Linked DNA regions of Homo sapiens: region 1 is reported to be linked to region 2. Evidence: microRNA targets listed by miRTarBase, many of them from high-throughput screens and not tested one by one. Region 2 holds a microRNA gene; the other region holds the end of a gene's coding sequence.

Region 1 (12,795 bases), not on the chromosome of region 2:
CACCCCCCGCCTCTCTCCCTTAAAAGCAGGAGGCTCCGGTGTATGCACTCACACTGGCTTGAAATCTCCCTCCCTCCCTCCCTCCATGGTATCTAGCAACCCCCTGCCCAAAACTGGGAAAAGGCTCTCGACAGCTATTAATGTCCTCCTCGAAGTCTACCTTAAGCCCACCTAAATTGGTTTCCTACCATAAACACACTTTACAACGGCCCAGGAAATCTTATAGGATGTATAAACCTCTTCGAATGCTTATAAAGTAGCACATAAAAAGGCGCAAGCAGAGGGAGGCCTCCGCCCCCCCCCCCTCCCCCGCGGCCCCCGGGCCCACCGCTTGCCCAGTACCCGGTGCCTACCTGCGCTGCTGCTCTTCTCGGCCCCCGCCTCTCCCGGGGGGCCCTCGCCGTCGCCACCGCTGCCTTCTGCTGCCCCCTTGGGCTCCGAGCCAGGGGTCGCCTTGGTGCAGGGACTGCCCCCGCCGCCACCAGCCCCGGTCCTGGGGTCGCCCTTGTCGGCTGCGCCCTCGGGCTGTGGCGGCGCGGGTGGCGGCGGGGGCTGCGGCCCGGCGAACGGGGGCCCGGGCGCTGCCTCGTAGAACTGGTCGAAGCCCTGTGGCAAGATGCCATTGCGGCCCACCGCGCTGTAGAAGTTGGAGGCGGCGCCCGCGGGGCCGTGCGGCGGCCCCGGCGCAGCGCACACCGGCTCAGGCGCCTTGAAGAGCACGTCCGGCCGGCGGCCCGCGGGCGGGAGAAGCTCGCGTTGCATGGCCGCCTCCTCGGCCGCCGCGGCCGCCGCAGCCGCCGCCGCCGCCGCCGCGTAGTAGGGAGCGTAGCCCCCCGCGCCGCCGCCGCCCCCGCCGGGGCCGCCCCCGCTGCTGCCGCCCCCCGCGCTGCCGCCGCCGCCGCCGCCGCGGTACGGCCACTTGGCGCGCTCCAGGCCGTAGTCGCGGAAGGCCACTTCGCGCACGGGCTGGACGTGCGGAGCCAGGTTGGAAGAGTAGGGGAAAGTCATCTGGCAGGACGACGGTTGGGAAAGGAACGAAGGCTTGCTAGCGAAGTCAGACGGGGCCACATAGTAGGCGCAGCCCGGCAGGTACATGCTGGCTGCGCTCTGGCCGCACTCGTCAAAGTCGTTCATGACTCCGCGGCGTGCGCGCCAGCGAGCCTCTGGCCGCTCCCCGCGCAGCCAACCTGAGCCATCGATTGCACAAGAGGCTTGGGCCAGGATCAACTAAGCAAAAATCCCCACCGGGCGCTGACGTGCAATTCATCTTGATTGATTCTGGTGGTAATTATGTCACGTGACGCCATGAAGAGAAATGTCCTTATATCTATATCAACGCTCGCCAACACGCCCCGGGACGGCTCCTGGCGCCGAGACGCGCGCGCTGGGGGCGGATCGGCTGCCCTCTGCCGCCAGCTCTCCCCGGGCGCTCCCTGACCAGGCTGCGCCTCAGGCCGGTCACCTGCGCGCCGCTGGCCGCTGTCACCGCTGGGCGCATCTGCCACCGCCCGAACGGGCCGCCCGCCCGCGTCCGCCCTCCCGCGCCGCTTTAAGTACGCGGACCGAGGCCGGCGGGGAGGAGGAAGGAGGGGGAAGAGGGGGAGGAAGGGGGAAGGGAGAGAAGCAGCGAGCAGAGGGGGGGAAGCCCCGGCTCCAGGCTCCCTAGAAGCTAGGAACTAGGTGTGAGGGTGTGAGGTTCCGAACCCCACCCCCCTTACTGCAGCCGCTCCCTCCCCCGCGACTCTGCCACCCTCTGCAGCTCACCCGCCTGGGAGCTTGTTGCTTCTTGTTCACCGGGCGGGAGTAATTTCGCCACTCTCCAGGGCGCAGGGAGCCCTGATTTACATATTTTTCTGCCCAGCGCGTTCAGAGTGGAGTGACTTGGCTCTTTCCGGTTCTGACCCCAAGGGTGCGAGTGCTGGCCTCGGAAAAACCCAGGCCATTCACCACCTAGGCACTCACCCAGGCCGGGGCCTTCGTGCCCACCCGGCTCTCTTCCCTTCTCTCTGGTTTCCCTCTCTGTTCTTGTCTCTCTTTCTCCTTGCCTCGTTTCTCTTCAGTCTTCTCCCTTCTCTCTCCTGTCTTCACTTCTCTCCTTCCTCTTCTTTTCCGCTTTCCTTCTTCCTTCCTCTTGCTTTCCTGTCTCCCTTCTCCTCTCTCTCTCTGTCCTCTCATCCTCTCCCCTCCTTTCCTCTAAGCTGTGTGTCACTGTCTCTGTCTCTCTCCCCGTTGCCTCTCTGCCTTCTCCTTCAGCACTGAAGCCAGGAGGGGGCTCAGCCCGTGGTCCCCAGCCTCCCTAGAATCTGGGGAGTCTGGTGAACAAAAGGATCTGGAGTCCTACTCTTAGGGTGCTTGGCTTCCCGCTGGCTCCCCACAAGAGACAACCCCCACACACTCGCACCTTCGTCCTCCTCACCCCTCTGCTTTCAGGCCTAGCCTGGGTGTCCGCCTTATACCTAGACCCTTCACTGCTTCGGAGCCCCGCCAAGGCCTGCGAATCCACGCCGCGTTTCCCCGAGGCTCTTCTGGTACCCTTGGGTCTGCATGGTCACTTCAGCCCCTCCCCCAAGATAGGTTGTCTCTCTAAGGGCTCTCAGCGGAGCCTGACTCCCTCCTGGAGCCCCTCTGTGTCACCTGGCTCTGAGGCAGACTCTTCGTGGGGCACCCCATCCACTCCCCCAAGGCCTCACTCTCCTCCCAGCCTGCCGCGACCCTCTCCTAGCCCATGGGTCCAGGCAAGGCCTGGGATCCCACCTCCGAGTGAGCAGACGCTTTTCAAAGGTAAACCGTCTCTTCCCAAACCCAAATCCCAGAACCGAGGGCAGGAGGCTGCCCCTTTCCCCAAGATTCCTCCGCCCAGGCAATCCCAGCGCTGGGGCCTGGGCCTCAGTCCTATACCCAGGGCAGGCGGCGCTGGCTGTGATGCTGGTTCCCTCCCTGGCCCGGGCTGCTGCAGTGCCGGTGCTGTGCGCTCTGCCCACCGTGCGGACAGACAGAGAAAAGGCGGGTGGTCTGAGCTAATATCTATTTTCTGGCTGATGTACCCCCCCTTCCTCTTTTTCTCCTCCCTCCCTTTCTCCCTTCCTCTCTCCTTCCTCCGCCCCTTCCCATGTCTTCTTCCCTCCCCCAACACTGCGCAAATAGGTCTGTGGCGACTGGAGGGCATCGAGCCTCCCCCAACTAGAACTGCCCATCTTGTGTGCTCCCTCCCCGCAGCTGGCACCCCCGCCCAGATTCCAGCTGACATTCTTCTCCTCAACCCAGACCCCCAGCACACTTATCTGCCTCCCCATCTCCATCCCAGGCCCAAGCCTCTCCCTTTCGGGCTCGTGGTCGACGCCCCTGGATCTCTCTCCTAAAATGGCTCCCTGGACGCTGCACACTGGCCCTGCGGTAGCTCAGGACCCAGGGCAGCTGCGAGGACTTCAACCCGGGTCTTTATGTGTCTGGGGATTCGCAAAATTCTCGCACCTTCTCTCTACTGGCGGCACGGGGTGGGGTGCAGGCAGCCCGGCGCCCCCAGTATGGAGCCTGCTGACCGCCGAAGAGGGAAAAGGGGAGGACGAACCATTCAAGTTCAACGACATGGCGACGGCAGCTCCGGCGGGAGCAGCGATTTGGCGGGGGAGGGTGAGCCATCTGCAGTGGCGCGCCGGTGCATAGGGGAAGGGGGCGGCCGGCCCCTTTCGGCTCCTTAGCGCGGACCCTTGCCCCCCGACCCACTCCACAACCCAGAGCGCTTTCATTCCAGTCCCAGCCCGCTTGGCTCTTTGGCCCCAGCTCCCTCCTAGTTCCTACCCCCATTCCCCAAACCCAGGGAAAACCGCAGCCTCCGGACCCGCGCGTCCCGCTCGAGAACCTACCGTGAAGACCCCGACTCTGTGGCCTTGTCCTTGCCTGCGCGGCCCCACCCGAAACGCAGGGAGCGCACCAGGCCTTCGGGGCGCAGCCAGCCGCTCCGCGAGAAAGAGCTTTCCGCACAGCGCCAGGACGCGATGCGGTGATTTTGAGTCACCCAAGATAAGACACTAACTTGACCTTAACTTTGTCAGGGCGCCCCTGGTATCTGGAGAACGTGAACAGACACTGTCTGGCAGCTCTCGTAAAAGCTGACTGGGGAAGGGATTCTGAGTCATTTCATTTATTGCCACTACAGTTCTGCAAGAAAGCTTTTCCTCCCTGCCAAACTTTAATTATTTATGCTCTTTTAAGAAACGAAAGAAGAGAAATGCAGGGAAAACACCCAGAGCCAGTTCCTTCCCTACAGAGCCTTCGGAATGGACTTCTTAAGTCAAGCGACTGGAGAACAAAAATATGGGGAGATCACCTTTGTCTAAGGACAGTGGGGCAGTCGCCTTGCCCTCCCCCACTATCACTGAGGGGGGAATGCAGCTGGGAGAGGCGGGTGAAGGGTGAAGGGGCATCCCCCCACATGAATATTTACAACGGTTCCAGATTTCTCTTCCACCCGCCGGCATCCCGGAAGCCTCCTCAGCCCGCCTCCCTGGGGGAGAACCCCCAGGCCTTAAAAGCGTCCCCCCTTCCCCGCCGCCCTCTGAGTTCCCAACTGATTGAATGCCAGATGAAGCTGTTTTTTTCTCGTTTTAAAACTGTTTTCTTGGTCAAGAGGCCCGCTTGGACTGCAGCATTTCAGAGGACACATTTGTCTTTCTGAAGGGAATGTTGAGCACTCAGATTTTAGCGTCCTTTCTCTTCGGCTTTTTTTTTTTTTTTTTTTTTTTAACAAATTTCCTAGTGGTTCCAAATCTCTGCGGGAACCCGGGCTATGGAAGGAGACACCAGAGTCTTTGTATTTGTGTGAAATAGCAAACGGGATAGATTTGGAAAAGACTGCTGAACCAAGAGATACGCTTTTATATTTAGAATAATTTAATTTTCTTTGAGGAGTGATCTCCATGAATATCCCCTCCCCCCACTCATCCCAGGCTAAAGGGAAAGAACACGATGATTTAATGATATATTTTGGAAAGAAACGGCCTCCGTGTTTTCTGTCTTAAGGCCTGGATCTGAGTTCATATGCTTTCCTCCTCCTTTCCCCAGCCTTCCGAGCGCTCAGTGCGGCTTCAGCCTTTGTTCAGTTGTTTTTGAGGAGGCAAACCTCTGAATGCAGACTCAGACTTGGAGATCCTGCTCTGGGTACCATCGCCTCTATGTGCCCAGCCAGGTGGAGAATCCTTTTGAGCCATAGGGCCTTGGCAGCTCTTGCTTCTTTCTCTCCTATTGAATATATATACATATAGGTATATATAGTTGTGTGTGTGTATACAATTAAAGAACAATTAAAAATTTCAATTATACACCAAATTTGCTTCTGGGAAAGGGAGTTGAAATGTTGAATATTCAGTGTTAGTGATTTAGTGGTTTTGCTAATTCTTCCTCTAGCTAAAAGCTAGTTTCCACCTCCACCAGCTAGGAGCTTGTTTTTGCAAGAAAATGAGTAGCAAGCAGGCCCTGAATTTCCTGGACTAAGCTAGAGGTTCAGATGGACTAGGGAGTTTTGAGGCCCCATTTCCCAAGGGAGTCTGCTGGGCGCCTGGTAAACCTGCTGGTATCAAGGATTTAGCAGGACATAGCCGGTTCCAGAGAAGTCAGACCAAAATTCGGTGGAGACAGACGTTTTGTTTTGACATCTGAAGAACCTCAAATCTTTACAGACCCCGAATACCAGCAAGCTTTAAAATTTGAGAATTTAGGCTAAGTGTGGAAGTCCCAGCTTGCAACAAGCTGAGAGTCCCCTTAATGTGTGAGACACACTCAGATCTGCCATGGTCCTTCCCTTTTGGATATTCCAAACATATTTGGTTTGTAGGCTTTTACACACCATTTCCTGACTGCCTCGGAAGCCATTTTCTCATTTAACGAACAGTCAACACTCGCGGTGAAACAATAACCAGAAAAGAAAAACGAATTTGGTGGCCTGAAAAACATTAAGGTGGAATCCAAAACATTTTGAAAAATTGACTTCAGCTCCTTGACAGCTTGGCTCAGACCTGGATATTTATTTTCACTCAAAACATTTGTATATATTGTGTCTGATATATACAAGCTACTGTTTTTGACAAAATCAAAACAAAACATGCATGATAACTATTAGATAGCCTAGAAAATGAAATTAGTTTAAATATCAACTGAAGTCAGTTGGGCTAAGGCTCAGGGCTCTCTGTGAGGGGCCCACTCCAGATTTAGGGCCAGGTCCTGCACTGAAAAGAAATCACTGGACTTTGGGAAGGAATCCTGAATCCTTGAGTTGTTGTGCATCATGCTAGGAATTGCGAAGGAGGAGTGCTACATGTCAGAAGGAGAGGGGAGAAGAGGCAGGGATAGTGGAATGAGCTCGCAGGGGGAGGCTTGGTTCACTGAGATTAAGGCGGGACACTCCAGTACACCCAGAACAACTCCACCTGGCATTTGGGAACCCCTGCCTCCATGAGGCAAGCCTGGCAGGGCCCAGGGCCTTAAAGTCTCCACTGGGACAGGCCAGACATGCCTCAGAAGGGGCACAGTAGCTGGGCCTCTGGTAGAGTTGGCAGATGGTAGAGACGGTGAGAGGAACTTCTGGTCCTCTTTGCTTTGTCAAGAGCAGCTAGCGGGGCAGAGAATCTAAGAGACTTCCTTCCCCTCCCCTTGACTCTTGAGAAGGATTTTTGCCTATCCTTATGGGGTTCCATTAAGGTAATTGAAGAAAGAAAGATGCACCAACACCTTTACTCACCTCAACTGGAAAGCCATATTTACAGTTGGAGTGCAGCACCCCTCCTCCTCTTATTCACTCCCTTCTCCTCCCCTGGATATTTTTCCCTCTCCCTGTGCAACAGAGCTTCAAAGCAGACCAACAGCTCCTTTCACCAGAGCTAGCCTCTGGGGATCCAGTTACAGGGTTCATAGGCCTGGCCTAGGCATGTTTGAGAAGGTGGGAGTAGGGCAATGTTTGCCAGTCTTGTCTGGAGATGGCACTTGTCTGGAGTCCCAGTCTCTCTCATCCCATCTCAGGAAATGAAGGTTCCACATATTCTACCCAGCTGGAAATAGGCCAGCCTATTTCGCATTTCTCATTTCGAGATATCTCCAAGTTTACCCCACTACCCAGCCCCTCCCCTTCCCTCCCTTTTCCTCCCAAAGTCTGAAGATCTAGTGTGGCTTTTGTTCTCTCAAATCAGCCAGGGCAGACAGGAGGGTGGAGGGTGGATGGTGCCCTTTCCTTTCTCCAGAGTGAAGATCCTGGCCTTGCCACAAAGGGCTTCTGCTGCAGAGACCTAATTGTACCCACAGTCCTTTCCATTCCCTCAGGAGGCCTTCCACTCTGAGCCCTAACTAGGCGACTGCTATACGCTGAAGGGGCTGGAGAGAGGGGGAAAGGGAGAACGAATTGGGTGGAAACAGAAAAATCCAGGTACCGGGGAGCAAGAATGAGCGGTGGGTGCAAATGCCCCAGCCAGGAGCAAGGAGAGTTGGCCTCAGTCCCCCAACGTGGAAGCCTTAAGGCCAGCCAGAGTTGCACTGGTACTTCCGCACGTTTCTCACGGGCTTCTCAGGGACTGAGGAAAGCAAGGAGGCCCAACTGGCCTGGTCTGTAAATCTCTTGGTGGCTTCTGGGGCCAGCAGAGAAGGAACCGAAGGAAAAGCCTTAGCCTTAGCCCCAGATCCCCCTCCCCAAACAAGGCCTCTGTCCAAAAGGGCAGATCCAACCCGGCCCTGGCCACGCGCGCGGCTAGTAGAGCGCCAGCGCCTGCTCCCGAAGCACCACGCGCTTCTTCTTCATACGCCTGTTCTGGAACCAGATTTTGACTTGCTGGTCGCTGAGGTTCAGCCTATTGGACAATTCCTTGCGTTTCTGCCTGTTGATGAATTCGTTGACGAGGAATTCGTTCTCCAACTCCGCAATCTGCTGCTTCGTGTAGGGTTTCCGCTTCTTGCGGGCCCTCCCCGGGGCCGCCCCCCACGGCAGGCCTGCAACACAGCCCCAACCCACGTCAACCCAGCCCGTACTCTGTCTATTGCCCGCCCCCAGGCGGTTCACCTCCCCTTACACTCTCCCTTGAACCCCACCTCCCATCCCGGCCCAAACCGGCCCGGGGAGCATGGGCACCGTTTACCGTCGGGCAGTGAAGGTCGCAGGCAAGAGGCAACGCCCGCCGCCTGCACTGTCATGTTCAAGTTGAGCGGGCCCTTGGTGTCGTCCTTGAAGCCAGGGGCGCAGGGAGCCCCCTGGAGCAGGGTCGTGGAGCCCGGCGTGGCACGACCCACACCAGCGTAGTCATACTTGGCCGCTTTGAGAGCAGCCACTGCAGGAGCCAGGCTAGACTCGGGGGCGAAGGACGGCCGGGTACGACCGCGCTCCTCTGGCCCAGCGGCCGCTTCGGGCGCATAGAACTTAGCCTGCTCTTCGGGTCCGTCTTTGGCTGTTGGGGGCTGCAGGCCGAGAGGCCCGGAGCCAGCCAGGTAGGGCTGCGAGAAGCCGCCGAAGGCAGTGGCGCCCGCAGGCTGCGCGGGGGCGCAGGAGGCGGGCGTGGCGGCCCAGGGCAGCGCGCCGCGCGGGTAGGAGATAGGGGGAAGCGCGGCCAACTGGCCGCCATTCGGCCTCAGGTTGGAGAAGTAGAAAGAGTCTGGCGACTGCAGATTCAGAAGCGAGCCCACATAGCCCGCTCTGTAGAGACTGCGCTCACACATCTCCAACAAAGGGCTTCGGCTGCGCTCGCAACAGTATTTAGTTACAACCGGGAATAAGAGGACAGGCTCAGACGATTGGACGAAACTTTGCCTGCAGGTTCTTCAAAGCCGGTCATTTCAGCACCGCCTACATCCCCCCGACCCGTTTTCCCCCCCTTCAGAGTATTATGATAACACCCGCAATGTTCGATGGCGAAGGACGAGGCTGCCAGCAGAGCCAAATCAGGTTGAGCGAAGACTAACTGTCTGCGGGTTTCCAGGCCCGGCTTCAGCAGCTGGGGACATCGGGCAAGAGGGTGACTCTGCCCAAGTGTCCCCTGGGACTCTTCTTGGTCGTGATTGGCTTTGCGATTCGTTTTCCGCAGGCTTTCTGGGCCCGGCTTGCTTCTACCGGCTTTAAGTTGCAGCGGAGGCATTTTCCATTAACCGGCGCCTCTCGACTTATCCGGAGAGGGCGCGGTCCGGCGGCACCAGGAGCTCTGTCCCTTGGCCTGAGCAATGTCACTTTTACCCCAATCACTCCCACAGAGAGGGTTTCTCCAGAGACCTCTGCCTGAGGATCTGGCAGCAAAGACCCATTCGCTACTTGAGCCCTCAGTCCCAGGCCGCAGACACAAAAAGGGCATCACAAACTACCCAATTTTGGGATCCAGGAAGGAGGCCACACTATTTCTGGTTTGTGTCCCCATGGCTAAGAACTCTGATCATAGGGAAATTGCCATACAGGTCCATGGAGAATGTCCGCCAGGGAACCCATCAGCTCGATCCACCAATCGTGGCCAAAGGCTACATTCCTTTTATCTTCAGGAGTCCTCTCCAGGACTACACACTGCAAACCAGAACTCCGAGGTGTCCCCATCCACCAAGTGGAGGGCAAAGCAGGACGAACTCCCCCGACTGGGTGTGGAAAGGCAGAAGAGCCAGAACCACCTGGCCGGGGAACAGCGGGCGTTCGGAGGCAGCTGGCTAGCAGAGTTCCTTGCCTCAGCGCCCCCAGGGGTGCCGGGGATAGGGAGTTCACGGGTCTGACAAACAGGGAAGTGGGAAAGGCAGCAGTTCTTAGCCGGGAGCGGTGTGCTCAGACCCCGTCGCTGGCCCTCTTGCCTAGTCCGGCCAGAGGACTAGGGGTCCTCCCCTCCTGCCTCTGATCCCAAGACCCTGGGAGACCCGGTGACCGGCGCCAGTCTCAGCCTGCAGCAGGACCCTCGGTCTCCGAGCCAAGCTGGAATTGGTTAGATCGCGGGCTCCTGCACTGAGACCACACAGGCGCCGCCGGAGGGCAAGACTGACCGCCGCGCTGCCACTTTATTGTGTGAGTTATGGCGACCAATTGGGTGGCTCTGGGGAACGCAATCGGCCTCTTCCTCCTGCTCTGGTGGGGGGGAGAGAGGGAGTGAGGACGGGGGGGTGGGGATGTCTGGGGCTCCTCTGGCTCTGCCAGAGAGTTTCCTTAGGAGCCCAGGCATAGAGACTCACTCGCTCTCGTCCTCTCTTGGGAGGTGGGGGCAAGCACAAACTGCAATCCCAGTTCCTAGATACTCAAGGGAATACAAGCCTCAGATCCCTAAGAGCTCTTATTTTGGGGAACCCATCCTATTTTCGAGGAGCTGCAGCTTCGTTACTCCCGAAAGCTCCAGCTCCAGGGGTCCCTGCAGTCTCTCCTCACGTTTCAGTGCACGACGATTCCTCGTTATTTCCAAGCCGAGGGGTGTCTCTTTCGGACCTTTAGGCAGCCCTACAACAGCTGTTTGCGCCTCAGGACTAAAGGCATAAAAGAACTCAGTGAAAAACAGGAAAAACAAGAACAACTAGGTTCCCTCCATTGCTCCTTGGACAGTCTTCCCACTTCATCCCCCGGGTTTATGACTTTCGAGGTCTGGCAGGCAAAGTCTTATGCGAGCTGGGGAACCTGATCGAGGGAGGATCGGGGTGGAAAGTAGTGGCGGGAGAGTGGCTTGGCTGGTGATTAAGAGAATGGAACAGGATTTGGCTGAGGAGCGAATAGAGAGCTCTGCCAATGCCGCCCAATGCCCAGGAGATGGCGAGCGCGCTCCATGCCTATCGGGGCGCAGCCGCACGGTCAAGATCAACAGTGAAGGGCGGTGCGGCCTCCCTGGGGTCGCCAGCCCGCTTTCAGACGCAGCCTAGCGCCTCCGAAAGCCGGAGATCTTGGCGGCAAGGCCGCCCCTGACAGCGGAGCCAGAGGGACCCAGGGGGCTGCCAGAGGCGGGGAAGCACTGCAGTCGCCCCTTTGTCTGACCGTGAGTCCCGGCTCCAATGCTTCCTTCGCCTCTTGAATCACGCGACACGGGGACCTCGTTCCCCCACCCGCGGCGCTAAAAACCTGCCGGGTTTCTGAGGAGCTCTCCTGCCGCCTGTCTCCAACCGAAGGAAAGGCCTCTCTCCAAGCCCCCTTAGCCTTCCGGGTTCCCCGAGGGCCTCCCTCCCAGTGCCTGGGCCACTTACCAGTTCCTCTCCTCCCTCTGCAATTTGGAATATAAAGGGAATGCATATGAATAACAAAGCCTTCTTCTGTTATTGATTTAGCCCTCAATCCAAATTCCTCCAGAGAGCGTTTGAGCACAGTTTTAATCTTCAGCAAACCTACCATTTCTCCAAGGCGGGGGGAGGGGGGGAAGTGACATGCAAACTAGAGATGAAAGGAAAGCCTCGAGGCAATCTCCCCTACCCACGATGGGAAACCCGAGAAATAGACAGGGGAAATGGAGTGAAGCTCCGGAGTGTGGGACTCACAAAAAATGGAGGGGAAGTTGGCGATTAGGAGAAAGGAAAAATGTGCCCGTTTCTGATGAAAACACATCTTTTGAGAAAAACCACAAAAACGGTAACGACCCTTCCCGAAGTGTAAGGTGGGGGATGGTGTGGCCCCTTGTGCACGGGTTATTTCTTCTGCAAAGATTGAATCGCGATCATATCTCTCTCTGTTTCTCTGTCTCTGTCCCTCCCCCTCAAAATCGAAGTTAGCTGTCCACGGTCGCCAGTAAGATATGAAAGAAATCAAGCTGGGACAGGGAAAACGAAAGTAGCTCCAAGTCTTAGGTCTCTGCGTTTTCTCTCTCAAAGTCATGAGGGAGCCCTCCCACCAGGAGAGTTTTCACACTAAGTGAGGTTTTAAATATCACTATGTAACTAACTTACACACTAAAACTTTAGCAACCACTGAGTTGATTGTGTGGGGAGCTAACCATGAGGAGTCATCCAGTTCCTCATCGGCCATTTCCCTGAGTGGCAAAAAGGCCTCAAACAGAAAATTCTAGTGCCTAAAAATTGCGTCTGAAAGTTTAGGTTTTATGTTTTCAGTTGTCAACTGCTCTGTGCAGACTGCCCGGAGAAGGCGATATGGGATAAGCTTGAAATGTTTCTTTTTCGATTGCCAAATATGGGTATGTCTTTCTAATTTCAAGACCTTCCTAGTCCAGATGTTTATAATGGTCTTTCCAGGTTGAAAATTTTCAAGTGAGTAAGTTTTTCTATGCACAGGCATACAAATACATATGGATTAAAAAATAAATAGAACTATATAAATAAATTGACAATAGTGAAAGAAAAGTAAAATTTTATTGTCTTTTGAGCTGGCCTGGTATAAAATATCATTTTAAACACTGTAAATGATATCCTCATTTTAAAACATCACTACTTATGTTAAAGTCATGGGCAAAAGGGAGGGAGGGGGGCAAAAGTGGAGAGCATGAAGGTTCCAGAAACCAGAATTAGTGTTGAGTTTCCTTCATCTATAGAGAACATAATTGTGTTCAAGATACCAAGATTTTGTAATAAATAAGAATCGTTTCAAGAAGAAACACAAACTTGAAAAAATAAAACAAATGTATAAGGACTCAGAAGAAACAAAAGAGTTCTGTTTATTGGCATCTCCCTAGGAGTAAAAAGTGATTTTTAAATGTCTGAAGCACTGCCCATGTATCCCAGCTCACAGACATTGCATTTACAAAAATAATCTCTCAATTGTATAAATATGCAGCACTTTAAAAGTAATTATTTATCATCACTTTCAGAAACATCATTATTTTTCTTCTTGGACCTTGGAACTTCACATTTTTCATATTTGTTAGATGCTTTACAGCTCCA
Region 2 (15,394 bases):
CGAACAAAGCTCACAAATATTTATAGGAAATGAAATTATCCAGCACCCAACAATGTAAAATTCACAATGTTTGACAACCAACAAAAATTACCAGGCATGCAAAGAAACAGAAAAATACATGATGAGAAGAAAAAAACCTATCTGTAGAACCCAAAAATGAAGCAGATGATGTAATTAATAGACAAGAACATTAAATCTGTTTTTATAACTATATTTTAATATGTTCAAGAGGATATGGAAACATTGAGAAGTTATAAAACAGACCTAATTAAACTTCCACAGATGGAGAATATAATGTCCAGGATGAAAATTACACTGGATAGAATTAATAGCAAATTAGACACTGCAGAAGAAGTAGTTATTTGGATAGCAATAGGAACTATTCAAAATGAAACAAGAAAACCCAAAAAAACTATTTTTAAAAATGAACAGAGCTACAGTGATCTTTGGGACAACTTTAAGTGGCCTGATATATATGTAATGAAAATGCCAGAAAAGGAATAGGGGTTTGTGCACAATATTTAAAGAAATAATGGCTGAAAACTTTCAGAATTTGGTGAAAACCGTAAACTCACACATCCAAGAATCTCAATGAACCTCAAGCACAAGAAACATGAAGAAAACATCAAGGCACATAATGAGATTTCTGAAAACAAGTGATAAAATCTTAACTACGTGGTAGAGGAGAGGCATATTGAATGCAACGAACAAAGATAAGAATGACAGCATTGTTCTCATCAGAAATAATGCAAGCCAGAAGACACTGGAACAAGTTTAATGCAGTGAAAGAAAAAGACACTTTTGATCTAGAATTCCATGGCCAATGAAAATATGTTTCAAAACCACAGGCAAAATTAAGACTTTTTCAGACGTTGAAAAGGTGAATAATTTATCAACAGCAGACCTGCACTACCAGAAATGTTAAAGAAGTCTTACAGGCATAAAGCAAATTATACCAAATGGAAATCTGGATCAACACAAAGGAGCGCCAGAAATGGTAAACATGCTGGCAAAAATAAAATATTTTGTCCAGGCGTGGGGCTCACACCTGTAATCTCAGCACTTTGGGAGGCCGAGGCGGGTGGATCACCTGAGGTCAGGAGTTCAAGACCAGCCTGGCCAACATAGCAAAACCCCATCACTACTAAAAATACAAGAATTAGCTGGGCATGGTTGTGCGCAACTGTAGTCTTAGCTACTTAGGAAGCTGAGGCAGGAGAATCGCTTGAACCCGGGAGGTGGAGGTTTCGGTGAGCCAAGATCACACCGCTGTACTCCAGCCTGCCTGAAATTGTGAGACTTCATCTCAAAAACTAAATAAAATAAAATAAAATCTTTTTTCTCTCATTTTTACATCTCTTTAAGAGATAACTGACTAAAGAAAAAATTCACTATATTGTAGGGCTTAGAACATATATAGAAATAAAATGAAGAATAACAATAGCACAAAGCCTGGGAGGGAGAAATGGAAGTGTACTGTTATGTATCTATAAGGCTGCAAGATTCTAATACTATACATAATTTTTTACACTGTACATAAATTAATATTATTTTAAAATGGAATATGATAAGTTAAAGATGTATATGTAAGTCCTAAAGCAAACAATGAAAAAACATATCAAAGAGTTGTAGCTAATAAGACAACAAAGAGTATAAATTTGAATCATAAAATAGTCCATCAATCCAAAAGAAGGCAAAAAAATAAATAAATGGAGAACAAAAAAATGAATAGGACAGAAAGAAAACAAAGAGCAAGATGACAGATCAAAATTCAAATGTGTAAATAATCACAGTAAATGTAAATGGTCTAAATATCTCAATTAAAAGACAGAGATTGTCTGACCAAATAAAAAAATAAGATCCAACTATGTGCTACCTACAAAAAAAATGCTTAAATGTAAAAAGAGAAATAGGTTAAATGTAAAAGGATACAAAAAGAAACACATTAACACTAATCGAAAGAAAGCTGGAATGCCTATGTTAATAACAAAAAGGCATATTAAATGCAAATGAACAAAGATAAGAATGACAGCATTGTTCTCATCAGAAATAATGCAAGCCAGAAGACACTGGAACAACTTTAATGTAGTAAAAGAAAAGAAATTTCAGAGCAAAGAATATAATCAAGGATAAAGAAAGCAATTTCAGGCCAGGCACAGTGGCTCATGCCTGTAATCCCAGCACTTTGGGAGGCTGAGGCAGGCAGATCATGAGGTCAGGAGATCAAGACCATCCTGGCTAACATGGTGAAACCCCATCTCTACTAAAAATACAAAAAAATTAGCTGGGCGTGGTGGCGGGCACCTATAGTCCCAGCTACTCGGGAGGCTGAGGCCGGAAAATGGCATGAACCCGGGAGGCAGAGGTTGCAGTGAGCTGAGATCGTGCCACTGCACTCCAGCCTGGGCAACAGAGAGAGACTCTGCCTCAGAAAAAAAAAAAAAAAAAAAAAAGAAAGCAATTTCATAATGGTAAAAGGCTTATTTCAAGAAGAGGACATAAGAATTATCAATGTTTATTCACCATATAACAGAGGTCCAGAAACACATGAAGCAAAAATGAATAGAACTGAAAGGAGAAATGGCAAATCCATAGTTATAGTTGGAGACTTTAACAGTCCTCTCTCAGTAATTGATAAAACAGCTAGACACAAAATTGTAAGGATACAGTGGGCTTGAACAACACTATCAACCAACTTAACCTAGTTGACATTTGTAGAACAGTGCCCCCAATGACAGCAAAATACACATTATTTTTCAGTACATTTACCAAAATAAAACATATTATGGGCCATAAAACAAGTCCAATAAACTTAATAGGACTCAAGTAATACAGAGTATGGTTTCTGACTATGATGGAATTAAATTAGAAATCAATATCAGAAACAGACTATGAAAATTCCCAAATATTTTGAAACTAAAAATTATACACTCCCAGGCCAGGTGTGGCAGCTCATGCCTATAATCCCAGCACTTTGGGAGGCCAAGGCTGGTGTATCACCTGAGCCCAGGAGTTTGAGACCAGCCTGGGTAACATGACAAAACCCCATGTCTACAAAAACTACAAAAATTAGCCAGGCATGGTGGCACACACCTGTAGTCCCAGCTACTTCAGGGGCTGAGGTGGAAGGATTGCTTGAGCCTGGCAGGTAGAAGTTGTGGTGAGTGGAGATCGTGCCACTGCACTCCAATGTGGGAAACAGACTCAGACTCGTCAAAAAAAGAAAGAAAAGAAAAGAAAAAGAAAGAAAAGAAGAAAGAAAGAAGGAAGGAAAGAAAGAAAGAAGGAAAGAAAGAAAGAGAGAGAGGGAGAGAGAGAAAGAAAGAAAGAAAGAAAGAAAGAAAGAAAGAAAGAAAGAAAGAAAGAAAGAAAGAGAAAGAAAGAAGGAGGGAGGGGAGGGGAGGGAAGAGAAGGTAAGGGAAGGGAATTCTAAATAATCCAAATGTCAAAGAAAAATTCAAAACGGGAATTAGCAAGTATCTTAAAGTGAATGAACCTGAAAGCACACTACATCTACATTTGTATAATGGAGCTAAAGCAGTGCTTAGACGGAAATTATAGCAATAAAATGACTACATTAGAAAAGATGAAAGGTCATCAGTGACCTCAGCTTCTACCTTAAGAAAAAGAAGTTGAGGAGGTGTTGGTCAAATGATTCAAAATTTCAGTTAGGAGGAATAGGTTCTAGAGATCTATTGTATAACATGGTAACTATAGTTAATAACAATGTATTGTACTTTTGAAAATTGCTAAGAAAGTGTTCTCACCACAAAAAAAGATAAGTAGGTAAAGTAATGCATATATTGATTAGCTTGATTTAGGCATTCCATAATTATATGTATATCAAAACAACATGTTGTACATGATAAATATATACAATTTTATATGTCAAATAAATAAAACATTTAAAAAAGAAACTAGAAAAAGGGAGCAAATAAAAGTCAAAGTCAGGAGAAGAAAGGAAATAATAAAGATCAGAGTGGAAATCATTGAGATAGAAAACAGAAAAACAATAGAGAAAATCAATAAAACCAAAAGCTGGTTCTTTCCCAAAATTGATAAAAATTATAAACCTCTATCCAGATGGATCAAGAAAAAAAGAGAAAACACATAATTAATATTAAGAATGAGAAATGGTTCATCACCACAGTCTACAGATATTCAAAGATAATAATGGAATAGTATGCATAACTTTATACCAATAAATTCAACATTAGATTAAATAAATCCTGTAAAAGAAACAATCACTAAAACTCACTCAAGAAGAAATAGATATGCTGAATGTTCCTATATCTAGGAAATAAGTTGAATTTGGAGTTCTTTCCAACAAAGAAAACTCCAGGGGTGGGAGGAGTTGGGGAAGTAAAGAGGGATCACCAAGGGCTGGATGAACCCTGCAGGTAGCTGTGTTTGGTCAACGGTTTATCATCTTGACTGTGGTCATGGTTTCACAGATGTGCATATATATGTCAAGAGTCATCAAATTGTACACTGTAAACCTGTGCACTTTACTGTAGGTCAGTGGCATTTCAATAAACCCAAGAAAAATAGTGACACCCCCGACAAAGACTGGCGGGCTCAAGGCAACTCAGCTTGTATGTGTGCCCTCCCAGCACAACTTTGCTCCCCGGGCAGCCTCAGAACCACGGAAAGATACTCAGAAAGCCAGTCACAGTGACCCCACAGCCCTGTGACAGATGTGCTGTCCCATGGGGCTTATCTAGTCACCCAGGAAGGAGCCATCATCTGTCCTCCCTCTGATGATTCTCAACTGCAAATATGTTGCCATGGCTTGAGTGCTTGTGACCCTCCAAAATTCATGTTGAAACTTCATCCCCAGTGCAACAGGATGAAGAGCTGATGCCTTCAGCAGCTGAGGAGGCCATGAGTGCTCCACCCTCATGGGTAGGATTTGTGCCTTATAAAAGGGCATGAGGGGGCGAGTTTGCCCTTCCCATCCTTTCTGCTGTTCATCCCTTCTGTCGTGTGAGGACATGGTGTCCCTCCCCTCCAGAGCACCCACGCAAGGCACCAACTTGGAAGCAGAGACTGAGACCTCACAAGCTATTGAACCTGCCAGCACCTTGATCTTAGACTTCCAGCCTCCAGATCCGAAGAAATAAATTTCTCGTGGTTCCTTATAAATTATCCATCTCAGAGGTTTTGTTACAGCAGCACAAATGGCCTGAGACCTGCATATACAATTAGATTCCATGAGCCTCGAGTGGGCACCCCCAGACCCTGGCCTGGCAGGTTACCTGTTCAGCGGGCGCTATGGACTCCTCTGGGGAAGGACAGAGAGGCTAAGATGCAAATTCTACTCTAGGCTCCTGCTCCCAGGGAGTAGAGGCCAGGCACCACCCATAGCTGCAGATTCAGGACCTGTCTCCCCTTCCCCCAGCCTGTCTCTCTTCCTGAGGTCTCTCGCCTAAGACAGCTGCTGTCAGCCTTGGGCATTTATCAGGCTCGCCTGGGAACTTGGTGAAGACCCAGATCCCTGCCACCCATCCTACTCACTGAGCCTGGGCCTCTGCAGTGAGTCAGAACCCCTGCCTTCACATACTGGTTTAGCTACTTTAACAGAGACCAAAATAACACTGGCTTTAAAAGGCAGAAGGTTCCTTTCTCTTGTGGAAAAGACAAGCTGTTCAGCTGTCCAAGTGGGTAGGGCAGCGTGTACATGAGCTGGTCCCACGTAGGGTGATCAGCAGTCCCAGTTTGCCCCAGACTCAGAAGATTCCAAGAACGTTTCGGTGCCAAATCAGGAAACACGCAGGCACACCTGGACAGGTGGGTCGGCCTCATGCAGGGATGCTTTGCCCTGCCCCGGCGTGGCCCTCCAGCAGCACAGTCGGCACGTCTCAGCACCACAGTGCCCCAGTTCCACCCAGAAGTTGCATCTGCCTCTGTTCACACTCCCCTGTGTAGAGGTGGCATGTGTCTCCACCAGCAGCCCAGGAGCCCCACGTGCCCAGCTTCCCTTCAGGAATTCCATGGCTGAAGGAATGGACCCCGAGGAGCCATCCTCCACCTGGGTCAGGGGCAGAGGCTGGAGAGGCCGGAGTGGAGGGGCTGGGGTGCCAGGAAGCACAGGTCTAGTCTCAGCAAAGTAGGGGCCTGTCCTCCTGGTGTCCCCAGGGACCAAGTAGGGGCCTGTTGTAAGACCACACCTCATTGCCACCTGAGGCCTTCCATTGGTCCTCCGAGGCCCTGGCTGAAATTCGGCCTCTTCAAGGATCCCCCACTGGCCCTCCCACCACATCAGCTCCAGTGACAGCTTGAGCTCTGCCCTGCTGAGCACTCAGGAAGTGTGCTGCATCATGTCAGGGGAACCTCCAGCGAGCTCCACGTCATCCTACAGAAGGAAGAAACAGGTCCTCCGAGGGGATAAGGGACTTGCCAAGGTCACTTGCTTGTAGGCATAGAGCTGGGGTTTGAATGCACGACAGACTCTCGGTCCCCTGTGCCAGAGGCAGGGAGGGTGGAGGAAGGTGCCTCTGTCTCTTCAATCCCTCAACCCTCCCACCTTGCCCATTCTCCTGGCCAGGTCCCCAGGGCCAGCCTACAGGCTCCAGCGGGAATGAGTGGGAGCCAGCCAAGGGAGCAGTGTTGTGGTGAGTGGGGGGAGTGGGAGCAGGCTGGAGCCCCTGAAAGTGGGGCCCCTGGGAGCCAAGCCCTTTCCCCAGCCTGGCTCCTTGAGGCAGTGCAGCTCAAACCCGAGGGAGGGGGTCTGGCCCAGTGGCCCAGGGGAGGTCACTGCAACGAGAAAGCTGGTGGCAGAGGCTGGGGGCTTCCCTGGAGACCAAAGTGCCAGAGGCAGAGTTGAGGGAGGGTCTTGGGTAAGGACCAGGCCACTGCCCCTCCACCAACCATCCTCATTTCTGCTTCTCTGAGATTAGAAGGAAAAGGCTGGCTTGCTTTCAAGGGAGAAACCACGCTGAGGCCTGGGGGAAAAGGACAAGCACCCCAGGGACACAGCGATGCTTTGGAACATGTTTATTGTCATCAGTCTAAATTGTACAGACGCACACCGGACAGAATGCCTCCAAGCCGCAGAACAGGGACACAGCCGCCATCTCCCACCTGAGCCTCAGCCCCTCTCACGGGGCTGCTGAGGGCTGAGGGCCCATGCAGAGGGCACGGGGGAACGTGCTTGTAAAATGAAATGGCTACAGGGGGCTGCGGTGGTCAGCAGGCAGCAGCTGGGGAAGACACTCCAACCCCTCCGATGCCACAGACCCACTGGGCGCTCCCACGGCCCCAAGCTCTGAAGCCAGATCCTGAGAGGTGGCCACAATGGCATTTGCTGAGCAACAGAGGAGGCACTGGCCAGTGGTGGATGCTCTCCCGGGAACTCCACTCCCCCCACCTGGGTGGCCAGGGGACCTTGCTGTCCTGCTGCTGGCCCTCTTCTGGAACAGCCCTCCACAGTCACCTCCTGTCTCCTCACATCAACCCCCTATGTGTGCAGGTCGGGCTCAGAGAGGGCAGGTGACTGGCCCAAGGCCACCCTAGCAGGCCTCAAACCCAGGCCTGTCTGACCCATCTCCCAGGACTCCCCGCAGCTCTCTAAACACTGGGTGAGGAGGTGGGGACTGGAGGGGGACCCTCCACCCCAGAGGACACAGCAGGCCAGGCAGCACCAGGCAGAAGACCCCGGCCCCTGGCTGGAGGTGGGGACAGATTCGACCCTTTGCTGAGTCCCTCCCAGGGCCGCCCGGGGCTTCACACGCAGATTGACGCGCACACCTCTCCTGTGGGCGCTAGCTACCACGAGGTTCCAGGGAGGCTCCGGCGAAGGCACCTGTCATCATGGGCGCCGCTTCTCCTCTACCTGGGTGTAGTCTGCAAACTTCCTCCCCACCCCCAGTTCCTGTGCCTCGAGGTCCTTCACGAGTTTAGCGCGCACTCGTAGGAGCCGCGCAGCGCTCCCTAAGGCCTCAGTGAGTGGAGACGCTCCGGGGAGCCGGCAGCGGGAACCATCGGCCGCCCAGCAGGGTGCGGCTGCCGGCAGCCTGATGGGCAGCTCCCAGGAAGCCCAGGGCAAGGAGCGCTCCTCAACCCTACGGGCCCACCGCCAGTTCCTCGCTGGGAATTCCACGGAGTTTCGAGGTGCGGGCCCTCGGGGTGCAAGAGGGCGGCGGCGGCGTCTCCAGGCCGGCAGCGCGCCAGGAGCGTGGGCAACCCAGCGCGCCCCCACCCAGCGGTTCCCACAGCACAGCCCGGCCACGCCCGGCCACCTCCCAGCAGCACTTGGCTCTCCGGCCGAGGGTCTTCCCTGGCAGCAGGTGGAGCCAGCCAGGCCCTGGGGACTGCGGGGCGCGGCGCATGGGGCGGCCGACCTGGAGCGCGGAGCCGGTCCGTGGGCTCCCCTGGATTGGTCGCCGGCGCACCCCTGACTGTGACTCTGACTCCAGGCCGCGCGTGGGACGCTCCGTCGCTGTCGCCGCGCCCGCCGGGTCTAGTGGTCCTAAACATTTCACAATTGCGCTACAGAACTGTTGAACTGTTAAGAACCACTGGACCCAGCGCGCGAGTCCCCAACACCGTCGGTTCGCCGAGCTGCGGAGAGAGGAGCCCCCGACGCCCTTGGGACCGCCCGCGTCGCCTGCGGATCCCGGGGACCGGCCCCTGCGCCCAGATCCCCGCTGGTCGCGCACCCCCTGCCCTGCTGCAGCCACCCGGCCCCGACGCCGTACCGGACGCCTTAGACGCCCTCGCCTGGCGCTGGGGGATCCCAGCCGCCAAGCCCAGCCCCGCCGCGTCCTCGCTGGCCCCGGCGTCCCCTCGTCCCGCGGGCCCCGCGTGGCAGGGCGGCTGAGCTCCGAGCGGCGGTGGCCAGCGCGGCGGCGCCTTTTATGCGGCGCAGCCGCCCTTCCCGGCGCCGGAATGTGCCCGCGCCGCGCTGGCCCGACCGGTTTTTCCGGGCGGGGCGGCTCCCGGGCCCATAGGTCCCGCGACTGATCCTCCACGGCCCGGGGACCTGCTCCGCGCGCCCGCGCGGGGGTGGCCCTGACTCAGCGGCCGCCCCGCCCCATCCGGCGCCCCAGCCTCCAGCGCCTGGCCTGGGCGCACCTGGCCTCCCGGGTTCTGGGTCCCCGCCGGGCCACGCCCGAACCGTCTCGTCTGGGCCGGGGGTGCTCGGGCGCACGGAGGGCCCGGGGCTCCACCTTGGCCGGGTCGAGGCCCAGGGTGGCCGGAACAGGTGAGGACCAGCGCCCGACAGGAGCCCAGGGCCGCGCTAGCTCTCCGGTGGGTGTGGGGGCTGGGCTGGACACACCCACCCCAGCCCCTCTCACTTCAAAGGGAACTTCGTGGGAGGGGGAAGGGGAGGGGTAAAGAGAAAGTGAAACTGGAGGGAGGGAGGTTTCTGCTTCTCAGACCCTGAACCCCCACCCCGCAGCCCACAGGGGTAGCCCCGTACCTGCCTCCTCATTTCCCACGCGGGGGGAGGGACGCCCTACCCCCTCACGCAGCAAGGGCCTGAGCCTCGCTCCCCCCACTCACAGCCCAGCCCCGAACGTCCTGGCGCAGCTGGCCCTGCCGGTCCTACCCACTTAGTCACCTGGAGGTGTCCAGGCCTGACCAGTGGCGCCTCCCAGGGACTCTGCTTCAGCAGAACATGGCAGCTGAGGGGAGGGCTCAGGCTCTAGGAAATACCCTAGAGCCCCCTTCAGCACTTGCCCCAAGTCTGGAGCCATTAGTGTGTCTGTATGGGGTTGGGCAGCAGGGTGGTGACCATTCATTCCAGTGCAGGGCGGTGACACGCCATCCCACCACCCGCCCAGCCAGCCAGGAGCCAAGTGCTCAGGAGCCAAGGTGAGCCCCAGACCAGAACACAGCCACCAGATCTGAGGGACCCCCCAGACATTTCCACATGGGCCGCGTGTGGCTCAACCACCGCAGCCACCCTGGAAAGGGAATCAGAAAGGTTTTGTTATTTTCATTTTGCAGTTGGGGAAACTGAGGCTCAGGGAGGGACAGTGACTTCTGGGGATTGCACAGCTCTTGGTGGTAGAGAAGGGATGACAGGCCTTGCCATCGCTGCATCTGTGGGTCTCAGTGCCTGGGTGTGGAGTCCGAGGGGCTGCGGCATGGGGGTGGGGATGGAAGTGGGCATAGGGGAGCTTGAGATCAAGAACAGGAGCTTGGGAGCTCCTCCCCCAACACAACTGCATGGGCAAGAAGAACCCACCTCTCTTCTTTTCTTTTTTTTTTTCTTTTTTTTTGAGACCTAGTCTTGCTGTGTTGCCCAGGCTGGAGTGCAGTGGTGCGATCTTGGCTCGCTGCAACCTCCATCTTCCCAGTTCAAGCGATTCTCCCACCTCAGCCTCCCAAGTAGCTGGGACCACAGACACAAACCACCACACCTGGCTAATGTTTTTATTTATTTTTTAAGAGACAGAGTTTCGCCATGTTGGCTGTTCTCAAACTCCTAGGCTCAAGCTATCCACCCGCCTCGGCCTCCCAAAGTGCTGGGATTGCAGGTGTGAGCCACCAAGCCTGGCCACCACTCCTTAATTCTAAGTTCTGGTCTAGCCCAGTCCTGGGCAGACTCTTCCCGACGCACAGCCACTTGGATGGGCTCCCCTCGCCCAGGTGGCTCCCGTGTCCAGCATCCAAGGGAACTGACGAGAGAGGACGGGGAGAAGGTGACAAGTACAAGCACCTGCAGTTCCCACCAGCAGCAGGAAATATTGAGGTGTGACCAGAAGGGGAACTTCCTAGCATACACGAGAAATCTGGTTACCTCCAGCTGGGGAAGGGCGGTCCTGGAGGGCCCTCAGCTGAGGAGTCTGATTTTAGGATAGAAAATGCTGGTGAAAAAGACAGTAGTCGTGATGGAGAGGAGATGTTCCCCAGAGATAGCCCTGGGATCCAGGTGATTCGAGATGGGCTATAGGAACCAAGGCCTCCCCCAGCGTGAAATTACCAGGTGTGAGCGGCGCCACCCCACTGTGGGGAGGCGGGTCCCACGGGCACTGGGCACCTGGCTGTGCCTCATTCCTGAGTCTCCCACAGCCTCACACCACAGCAAGAGACAAGGCGGCCCTGATTCACAGCCCAGCTCTGCCCTGTGCCAACGCAGAGCCCTGGGCGCAGGACGGGGCCACTCTGTGCCTTAGCTTCCTCAGCCATGAAGTAGGATAGACGGGGACCCGGTGCCCTCCTACAGGCACAGTGGGGACGAAACACACCAACGCGGCGCAGGACACGAACGCTCCAAGCCTGTCTGTCCCGGCTGTTCCCACTGCACGCCAGAGAGCCAGAGGCCTTGGGGCCAGGTCACTGCCCAGCTCAGAGCCCAGGGAGCCCCGAGCAGTGGCCCTGCACCTCCTGCCACTTCTGGGTGATTCTAGAGGAGTCCCCTTACCCAGGGCCCCTCTGGCCTCTCCCCAAGGGGCACAAAACGGCCCCCGAGAAAGCTCCCAGACTCAAGCCTATGACTCTTCACAGCCTCCTGAGACACTGGCCCAGTCCCGGGGCTCCCTGTGGTAGGGCCCTACATCCCACGAGGGTTTGGAGGGGACTGACAATGGGGGTCTGGCTGCCCAGCCTTGTGAGGAGCTCTCCCCATCTGCCCAGCCCGTGGCCCCCAAGCCGTCTCTGCCGAACTCCATCAGTGACCCAGTTGGAGAAAGGCCAGCTTGACAAATGCTCTCTGCGGGACAAGCAGGATGAGTGGGCGTTTCTACACTACAGGACACTCACCCCCGGCATCAGTCGGTGTGTCTACACTGGCAGGTTGGCACCTGCTCTGGGAGGGTGCTGCCATGTGGGCTAACGTGAGCCACCTGCAGCTTTCACAACCCGGAGCAGCACTGAGTGGGGTGGCGTGAGCAACAGGCTCTGCCCAGCCCCTCAGGAGCTGAGGGAAGCAGGTGGGCACTGCCGTGTGCAGGAGCAACCGGGGAGACCAGGTGGGCTCAGCCCAGGGATGCCGGAGGTAGTCCCACCCCTTCTCACCTGCACCAGGCATTTGTCCAGATGCCCCACCGCCTCTCCCAAGGCCCTCCAAGGGTCTCGGCCATCCGGGGACAGCAGGGGCTCCTGGCTCTGGGGCCCGGTGCCACCCTCCCTCCACCTGCAGCCCCTCATGGGCCTCACCAGGGTGAGGAGCAAAGGCTTCCCCGGCCCTGCCACGCTCGCATGGCGTCACCTTGTTGTGCAAGGCCCAGGCACACCTGTGTCGGGGTGAGGACAGCAAGGATGCCAGCGGCAGTACCAGCCAGGCTTGGGAACCAGGCTGAGGAGCCTGGGGTATGCCCAGGTGCCAAGGGCCAGCTCTGGGGTCATGCTTTTGCCCTCCTGGGGCTCCAGTCCAGAGGCCAGCCAAACAGAGGGACAAAAGGAACCGTCACCTGGGCAGGTAGAGAGGCCTGGAGGGAGGCAGCCCCCATGCTCCTCACACCCAGCAAGAAGGGGTCAGGGGCTGGGGGCAGCAGCAGGGAGTCCCTGGCCATCCCAGGCCAGTGCATGCACACATGATGGGGGCCAGGGGTCCACACCCCCGATTTCAGCCCCAGCTGAAAGAAGGCACGAGGCTGCCCTTGGCCTTGGAGCACCACCCCCACCGGGCAGCAGCAGGGCCCGCCCCACCCGCCCACCTGCCCAGGCTGTGCAACCAGGCAGGCACAGCTCACCTCTTCCCTTACAGGGTGGCCTGGCTCACGGTGGAGGCTGCATCAGGAGCTTCAGGCAGAGCAGGGGCTGGAATGGTCCCCAGGGGCTCACCACCAGAGTGTGAAGCCCCCTTGACACTCACAGGCTTCCGCAGCCCTATGGAGCCCTGGTGTGGCCCTGGCCTGAGAGGGGGGCCGGGTGCAGCGATACTGGGGTGACAGAAAACCAGACAGCAACTGGGACGGGACTGTGAGGACTAAAGAGTTAAGCAGGGGCAGCATGCTCATCCAGGGGTTGGAGGGCTGCCTGGGGGAGGGGACTTCAAGCTCCAGAATGAAGGCGCAGGAGGTAAGGAGATGGGCAGAGGGTGTCTGGAGGAGGGACCAGCCTGGGCAAAGGCAGGGTGGCAGGAAGGGGGAGTGGCAGCTGGGAAAGGACCACTTGGCCAAGTCACGTCCATGCACCCCACCCTGCCCAGCTCACACGCACAGCTGCCCCCGGAAGGATGGGCCAAGTGACCCCCGCAGAGACCCCACAGAGCCTGGGCCTGACTCCCCACACACATCCACAGTCCCGGACCCAGACAGAGCCTCTCAGAGCCAGGCTGTACAGACCTGGTGAGGGGATGTCAGAGACTTTATTGCCGTCCTGCCCAACAAAGGCCTTCAGGCTTTACATGAGAGCAGGCTGGGAAGCAGCCCCAGCAGTGGGGTCATGCCTGAGACCCCTCCAGCAGGTCATGGGAGGAAGGAATGGCTTATACTGCAGCAGGACGCCTTCAGGTTAGACACCAGGCAGCACTTCCTGAAAACATGAGGGCTCCTGAGAAGGACACCCAGGTAGAGTGCGAAGGCAGGGCAGAGAGACAAGCCCAGGCACCCCGTCTGTACGGCACAGCCCAAGAGCCTGAGCAAACCCAGCTTGAGACTATGGGAGGGCCACACAACCAAGTGGGAATGGGGGTGTCAGCTGGGAACTGGCCTGGGAGACAAGCGGAAGCACCCAGCCTAGGGGGTCCCGGTGGGGCAGGGCGCAGGGGCAGGGGTGGGTAAGGGGATGCTGAGCCCTGGCTGGGCCCTCAGTGCTCAAGTCTGGTCAGTTCCTTCAGGAAGCCCTCCCTGACTGCTCCTTTCTCCTTCTCCTCACCTCTAAACTGTGTTCCACCCTGGACATCCCCAGGAGGGGCTCTGCAGACCCTAAACTGGCTGGGACCCATCTCAGCCTCCTCCGGTTCTGTTCCCCTTGATTACGCCCCCCCGAGCCAGGATCCAGCCCTGCACTAGAAGCTCACTGGGGGGTGTCAGCCCCGCCTGGGGTGGGGACTTACTGGGCATGGGGCCTGGGCACCAACCGCACCCTCCAGGCTCTGTAGAAAGGCCACCACTGCCAGGTTCCCGGCTGCCTCTGCCTATGGGGAAGCAGTGGGGAGGGGCTGCCTTGGGGCCACTGACTAGCAGCCTGGCCCAAGGATCCCCATCCCCAGGATGCCCTCCCCTGTCCCCAGCCCACACACACAGGGCCCCAGCAGCTCCTCCACTCTCGTCACCCCCACCACTCAGAGCCCCGGGAAGGGGACCCAGTCTGTGCGGGTCCTGCATGGGGAGGGCCAGGCATTTGGGGGAGGGGCAGAGCGGGGAGGGGCAGAGCAGTGAGCTGGTGAATTGTCCAGGTGTCCTTCCTGGAGGTGGCAGCCTTTGGAGAGGGTGCAGGGGGTGGGGGCACTCACGACGTGCAGGGCGCTGTGCCCGTCATAGCCCGGCTGCCCCAGGTCAGCCCCTGCCTGCCACCACACCTGCAGGCCTTCGAGGTCGGCCCTGTATGCCAGCCTGGGGGTGGGGGCAGAGGAGGAGTTGTTGGGGCCTGCTGGGCACCTGTCCATCTGCCCACGTGCCTGTCCCCCAGGTGGCCTGGACGCTCTTACAAAGCCAGCCCCAAACAGCTGACCCAGCAGCGACCTGGTCCTGGGGCAGGAGTCACTGGGGGCCATCGGGCAGCCTGGAGCCTGGTTTCACCCAGTGGGTGGGACTGCGACTCAAGTCGGGTACACATGCGCAAACATACATGAACACACATGCACACACAGCAGCATACACAGCAGCATACATGTACACACACAGGAGCACACAAGCACACACCTACACATGCACACACACACGAGCATATGTGCACACACACATGAGCACATGCGCCTTTGCACACACATATGCACGCCCACCTGCCGAGCAGCCCACGCCAGTTTCGTGTTACACAACACACCGCTCTTCCCGGGGCGGGGTCCGCAAAGGTGGAAGGAAAGTTTGAGGCAGCCCAGTGGTTCAGAGAGGGGGACACAGGAGGCAACCCAGGATAACGGTTGGCCCTGGACCCCGGCAGACTGCATGGGGGGGTCCTGGCTGGGACAGGGGTCTGGGCCCACCTGCCCTGGAGTGGGGAGCACCTGCCAGGCCCTCACCAGCTCCTCCTCACCCTGCCACCCTCCTGGGAAGAACTCACTCGCCACCTGGGGAGGCCAGGAGCAGGCCAGGTGGGGACCCGGCAGGGAAGGCTCCACCCACCCATGGTGTGCAGGGGCTGGGGGAAGTGGCCTGGTGAGGAAGGGGCTGCCCCCTCCTCTGGAGGGCCCTTAGGGACTCTGCGCCTACCCAGGAAACAGCAGCAGCCCTGCAGTGGCACTGGGTAATCTCTGCAGCGAATCTGCTGGATGGCCTCACTGGCCCCTCCTGGACCTGCTCCAAGAGGCCAAGCCCCACACACACACCGGCCCCTAGGA

The links. Region 2 holds the annotated microRNA hsa-miR-203a-5p (AGUGGUUCUUAACAGUUCAACAGUU, at 8,497-8,521, opposite strand). A microRNA usually pairs through its seed, bases 2 to 8, with sites in the 3' UTR of a target mRNA and lowers its output. Matches are read on the target gene's strand: a 7mer-m8 pairs with bases 2 to 8, a 7mer-A1 pairs with bases 2 to 7 and ends in A, and an 8mer does both.
Region 1: the mRNA of HOXD12 is a reported target of hsa-miR-203a-5p. The part of its 3' UTR that is shown has no 7-base or 8-base seed match.

What each region holds. Positions count from the first base shown.
Region 1 is chr2:176,095,695-176,108,489 of GRCh38, reverse strand. It overlaps HOXD12 (homeobox D12), which reads right to left and starts at 8,695. Exons shown (of 2, transcript NM_021193.4): 1 at 8,115-8,695; 2 at 6,001-7,968. The coding sequence starts at 8,688. The coding sequence ends at 7,730. HOXD13 (homeobox D13) reads right to left here. Exons shown (of 2, transcript NM_000523.4): 2 at 12,546-12,795. HOXD11 (homeobox D11) reads right to left here and starts at 1,210. Exons shown (of 2, transcript NM_021192.3): 1 at 354-1,210. The coding sequence starts at 1,134. RefSeq lists enhancers at 3,354-4,340, 8,108-8,840, 10,382-10,964, 10,965-11,548.
Region 2 is chr14:104,110,558-104,125,951 of GRCh38, reverse strand. MIR203A (microRNA 203a) reads right to left here and starts at 8,547; the gene lies at 8,438-8,547. ASPG (asparaginase) reads right to left here. Exons shown (of 16, transcript NM_001080464.3): 14 at 14,351-14,450; 15 at 13,952-14,032; 16 at 10,370-13,428. The coding sequence ends at 13,408. MIR203B (microRNA 203b) reads left to right here and starts at 8,449; the gene lies at 8,449-8,534.